Regions from separate parts of the Homo sapiens genome. Here region 2 is linked to region 1. Evidence: fine-mapped expression QTL. A gene starts in region 1. The other region holds a variant in brackets. All regions are shown on one strand. Distances are from middle to middle. Region 1 holds the start of UPP1 (uridine phosphorylase 1). Region 2 has its middle 23 kb from the start of UPP1.

The links. PIP is the estimated chance that this variant, and not a neighbour inherited with it, causes the effect.
Region 2: its variant is fine-mapped to the expression of UPP1 in whole blood (INTERVAL, PIP above 0.99).

Annotation. Positions count from the first base shown.
Region 1 is chr7:48,087,800-48,090,716 of GRCh38, reverse strand. UPP1 (uridine phosphorylase 1) reads right to left here and starts at 1,452. Exons shown (of 9, transcript NM_003364.4): 1 at 1,299-1,452; 2 at 353-529. RefSeq lists silencers at 888-1,077, 1,418-1,757 and enhancers at 858-1,387, 1,898-2,107, 1,920-2,449.
Region 2 is chr7:48,064,606-48,067,522 of GRCh38, reverse strand. No RefSeq gene overlaps it. Among named protein-coding and RNA genes, the nearest start is that of UPP1, 23 kb to the left of the region's middle. The variant A/C (reference allele first, on the strand shown) is at 1,627.

The DNA of each region.
Region 1 (2,917 bases):
CTGAAAGGCGGGAGAGACAAAGGCCTGCCCTGGGAATGGCTCAGCAGCGCTTGTAGAAATCCAGAGTAAGACATTCTTTCTATTCAAGGAAGTCACAAAGTTTTTTAAAGACCCGCGGTTACAGCCAATGAATGGAACCAATGGTCTTTTTAACCAGAAGACCCCAGGAAGGCAGAAAATGAGCCAAAGAAAGGCCAGGCAGGGGACAGTGGGGAAAGGAAACAGGGATGGAGAAGCAGAGAGGGAAGTGCAGAGACAGGTCACCCAGGCGCCTGGAAACTGCCTCTATGGCCTTCACGGGAAACGGCCTCTTTCTACTCCGGATCCCAGACTGTGTTTCTTTGAAACTGACCGTCAGAGGAGAGCGGCTGGAGGCGGACAGACGTCTGCAGTGGGAGGCGCTCCAGGCGTTCCAGGCAGTGTCCTGCCGGCGAGTCACCCGCGACCGCGAGTCACCTCACCAAGCCCTGAATTGGGACAGGAGACGAGACGTGTCGACGAGCTGCGGAGTTCCTCGCTTCTCTGGGCCCTGCCAGGTCCAAGAACAGGTTGCCATATAAAAGAATCGTGAAGGGACCCCCTTCCCCATGCAAATTATGTCATATAACGCATATGCCTGTGAAGTTTCTCTGCGGAGCTGCCAGATAACTCGATGACAATATTTTATGCGGTAACATTTTGTTAAATGTTGACTCGATGGCCACTTGACGCCATCTGAACTCTGAAAGCTCGCGTAACAATCATCCTCCAAATGAAATTTTACCCCCTTCTCCCTTTAAAAGGCGGTGGGGACAAAACATCACTTCGTCACTTAAGTCACCATCTCCTTCCTCTTATCTGGGGCTCCCAGCATAGTTCTAGGGGTTCCCGCACTCCCCGCCCGGGTTTGGGCTGCGAGAAGCGCCCGCCTGCGCCCTGCGGGACCTGACCCTGCCGGCTCTGGCTTCACCCTCGCTGCGCCTCGGCCCGGTGGGCTCCCCGCCCAGAGCCCCGCGCGCTCCGTCGCCGGGACGTGGGAGAGGTAGGCACGGGGTGGACCCGAGGAAGCACATCCCGCCCGCGCGCTTCCCCCACGCCCACCTCGCTCCGCACACACCAGCCCCAGAACCTCCCGGCCGCGCGCCCGCCTCCCCGCGCAGCCGCGCCGGGCCGCTCTCTGCTCCTCTGCAGCTCACAGCCAAGGTGCACCAGAGCCTCCGTCACCGCCCCTACAGGTAAATGGGCACGTGGCCAAGGCAGGGGACGGGCTAGACCCCTGGGAAGAGAGAACGGCGGGAGCCGGGCCGCGGGCGACTCACCACTCGGCCTGCGCAGAGAGCCGCTACACCCGCGGCGCCATCCTCGCACTGCGACACCGGCGACAAACGCAATGCTCCAGGGCCGGACGAAGGGACGGCTCTCGGGAGGCTCGCAGACGGCGGGGCGCGGGTCTGTGCGCCGGAGCACTCGAATGAGGGAACCACCTGCGAGGTGAATCTCATATGGAGTCTGCGAGCGGCCCCGCCCTGCCCGGGGGTTACCGCTAGGCTCGGGCCCCGCCTGCCCTGGGCCGGCGAACTCAGCTGACCGCATCCTGGGCCATCCCGCAGACAAGCCCCGCCCGCCCCCACCTTCCTCTGCCCCTCTGGCCCCGCCTCCCCCGCCTTCCTCCTCTCCACCCTCCCGCGAAGGTCCCGGGAGGCTCAGCCCGCAATTGCTTCTCGCCTCTGCAGAGCAGCTGGGCAATTGTAAAGAACCAGCAGCCAGTTCTGTTACTCATTAAACAGCCCCTACTACAGAGGAAATCTTCTTACCCACGTGGTCCTAACCTGGGGCGGAGGAAACCGGGCTAGAAGCGGCTCTAGGACTAACCCAAGGTCACGCCGCCAGGCAGGATCCCCGGTCTGTCTGTCTGGCGGTGGCCCCGCGGCTGGGGCCAGCGGAGAGAAATGACAGCGTGGAACCAGCCCTGGCCCGGTGGTCGGGAATGTGGAGCTGGCACTGTCACTGTGTGTACCCTGGATCTCTCTGGACGGCCTCGGCTTCCCCCCTGGGGAGTTTCTCTGGGACCTTCCTGATCCTGGGAGTTCCCGCTTGCTGGGGCAAAGCCAGGAGCTCGCCCGAGGAGGGGAAGTGACTCATTCACTTCGAGTCGCAGCTAAGTGGCCGAACTGCCTCAAACCGGCGCTGCACTCTGACCCCCAGGGGCCGGACCTGCCTGCCCCCGGCCGGTGCCCACTCTCCGTCTCAGGCGTCTTTCCTGGTCCTCTCCCTGCTTCCCGAACGCGCACTCTGGTGAGAGCACAGAGCCTGGGAAAGAAGACGACCTAGAGGCCCGGGCAGCCCAGCACCTCTGTTACTTGCTTCCTAAAGGGAACTCCAGTTCCTGAGAAAACATGGGGTTGGGCCGGGAGTGGTGGCTCACGCCTGTAATCCCAGCACTTTGGAAGGCCGAGGCGGATGGATCACCTGAGGTCAGGAGTTCGAGACCAGCCTGCCCAACATGGTGAAACCCCGTCACTACTAAAAATACAAAAAATTAGCTGGACGTGGTGTCGCGTGCCTGTAATCCCAGGTACTAGGCAGGCCGAGGCAGGAGAATTGCTTGAACCCAGCGAAGGATGCAGTGAGCCGAGATCGCGCCATTGCACTCCATACTGGGTGACAAGAGTGAAACACACAAACAAATCAAGGAAGGAATTAAGGGTTTTATTGAAAATGAAAGTACGGCCAGGCGCAGTGGCTCACACCTGTAATCCCAGCACTTTGGGAGGCCGAGGCGGGTGGATTACAAAGTCAGGAGTTCAAGACCAGCCTAACCAAGATGGTGAAACCCCGTCTCTACTAAAAGTAAAAAAAAAAAAAAAACAAAAAAAAAAACCTAGCCGGTCACAGTGGCAGGTGCCTGTAATTCCAGCTACTTGGGAGGCTGAGGCAG
Region 2 (2,917 bases), 23 kb after region 1:
GATATATTGTGGGTGTATGCTATACATACATTTCTGGATGAATTTAGATGATTATGGTTTTTTTTTCCTTTCATTCCCTCAATGTGATTGATTAATTTAGCCAGCCTTGCATTCTTAGGATACATCCCACTTGGTCATGACATTTAATTCTTTTAATATGCTAGTGGATTCAGTTTGACAGTATTTTGTTAAATATTTTTGCATCTATATTCATAAGGAATATTGGATAGTAATTTTCTTTTTTTGCAATGTCCTTTATCTGACTTTGGGATCAAAGTAATGCTGGCCTCATGAGTTAGGAAGTATTCCTTCCTTTACGATTTTTAGAAGAGCTGGAGAAAGATTGTTGTTCATAACTGGTAATTAGTGAAAACTACTTCCATTATTGGGAGGTTTTTGATTACTGGGTCAGTATCTTTAATTTTTATAGATCTGTTCATATTTTCTTATTTCTTCTTGAGTCACTTTTTGTAATATGAGTGTTCTAAGAATTTGTCCATTCATCTTGGTTATCTAATTCTATTGGAGTACAGTTGTTCATAGTGTTATAATCCTTTTTAATTTCTTTAATGTTGGTAGCAATGTCTTTACTTTTATTTCTTTTTTTGGTAATATGAGTTTTCTCTCTTTCTTTCTTCATCATTCTAGCTAACAGTTTGTCAGTTTTGTTAATCTGTTCACAGAACCAACTTTGGTTTCATTGAGTGTGTATTTTTTCCTATTCTCTGTTTTGTTGACTTCTGCTTTAATCTTGATCATTCCCTTCCTTCTGCTAACTTTGGGTTCAGTTTGTTCTTATTATAGTTCCTCAAAATGTAAAGATAGGTTACAGATTTGAGATCTTTATTCTTTTTTCATGTATTTGTTTACATTAAAAAAGTACAACATATAAAAACTTTAAAAAAACTTATGGGATGCAGTGATAGCAGTGGTCAGGAATTATAAATTTCTAAACTTATAATGAAAATTTCTAAATTGTCTAAATTTATAATTTCTGACCATTGCTTTCACTGCATCCCATAAGTGTTTTTTTGGTTTTTGTTTTTGTTTTCTGTTTTTTTGAGACGGAGTCTCATTCTGTCGCCCAGGTTGGAGTGCAGTGGTGCAATCTCGGCTCACTGCAACCTCCGCCTCCTGGGTTCAAGCGATTCTCTTGCCTCAGCCTCTGCAGTAGTTGGTATTACAGGCATGCACTGCCCTGCCCAGCTGATTTTTGTATTCTTAGTAGGGATTTTACCATGTTGGCCAGGCTCGCCTTGAACTCCTGATCTCAGGTGATCCACCCACTTCGGCTTCCCAAAGTGCTGGGATTAAGGCGTGAGCCACTGAGCCTGGCCTCCATAAGTTTTTATATACTGTGCTTTTGTTTCATTCATCTCAAACTATTTCCTAATTTCCCTGTGATGTCTTCTTTGACCAACTGGTCACTTACATATGTGTTGTTTAATTTCCACATATTTGTGAAATTTCCAGTTTTCCTGTTATTAATTTCTGGTTTCAGTCCATTGTGGCTGGAGAAGATACGCTGTATGATGTCCATCTTACTAGATTTCTTGAGGCTTATTTTGTTGCCTAATGTATGCTCTGTCTTAAAGAATGTTCCATGTACACATGAGAAGAATTTGC[A/C]TTCTGCTGTCGTTGGGTGTAGTGCTCTGTATATATGTGTTAGGTCTAGTTCTCATAGGTCCTTACTAGGAGAATTTTTATTATATTTATTTTTAGAAATTTTGTAATTTAGGTTAGTACTTTCTCTTTCATCAAGGGCATTAAATATAAGTTGTGCAGGTTTTCAAAAATTTCCTGGTGGGAATTTTTTTAAGTTTATTGATTTTGTGATTAATTTCCAGGTTTATTGAGCTGTGGTCAGAGTAGTATTTGCACATTTCTACATTATTGTGTTCCAGTATAACAACTATTTATGTGAATATTCTGTGCATGCATTTGAAGGTATACATTCTATTATCGCATCTTAACTTTTGATATATATCCGTACGACCTATCATATTGATTACACTGCTTAGGCCTTCTATAACCTTTGTTATCTTTTTCTGGTTGATCTGAATTGCACTGAGAGTGATCTGTTAAAGTATCCTATTAGTAGTTGACTCCTTGCATTTCCTGTAGTTCCTGCCTCATAAAAGTGGTCTCTGTTATACTCGATACTTAGATATTCATAACTGTACTGTCTTTCCCATGACTTCTGGCTTTTAGTATTAAAAAGTTCTTTATTTGTCTCATGTAATGTTTATTGCTTGAATTTTACTTTGTATGACATAAATATTGCTACCTGTGTTTTCTATTATTTCTGTTTTCCTGGTATGCCTTTGCTCATCATTTCATTTTTAGCCTTTCTGAATCCTTTGTTTCAGATGTGTCTCATGTCTCCAGCATATGACATTTGTGTCTTGCTTTGTAAACCAAAATGAAAATCTTTTAACAGATGAGTTAAGCTCATTTGCATTTATTGATATGACTTACAGGTGTAGTCTTAATTCAGTCACATTATTGTAATTATTATGAGTATTATATTTACTATTTTTCTTTCTCTGTAATGTTTTGTTTTTATTTTTTTAACTTATGTCTTTCTTAGTGCCCTTATTTCTGTTTTCTTATTTAATTTTTTACTATCTGTTTTGTCAGTTTCTAATGGTATTCTTTGAGTACTGTGTATGACCTATCCACCAAAGGGTTTATTTTAGATTTATCTTTTCCTTTTCTAAAATTTTAGTTATGTTATTTCTAGTTTGTCAGAACATAGAACATTTATATATTACTCTTTCATGTTTTCCCCACTTTTATTTTAGTTTCAGGTCCACAATTAACTATATTAAGTGCTCATCAGTGGTCCTTTTGCTGAATTTTCTTCAGTGATTTTTAGCTGAGTCAGTCTCATCCTCTAGCTGGTGCTTCAGAAAAG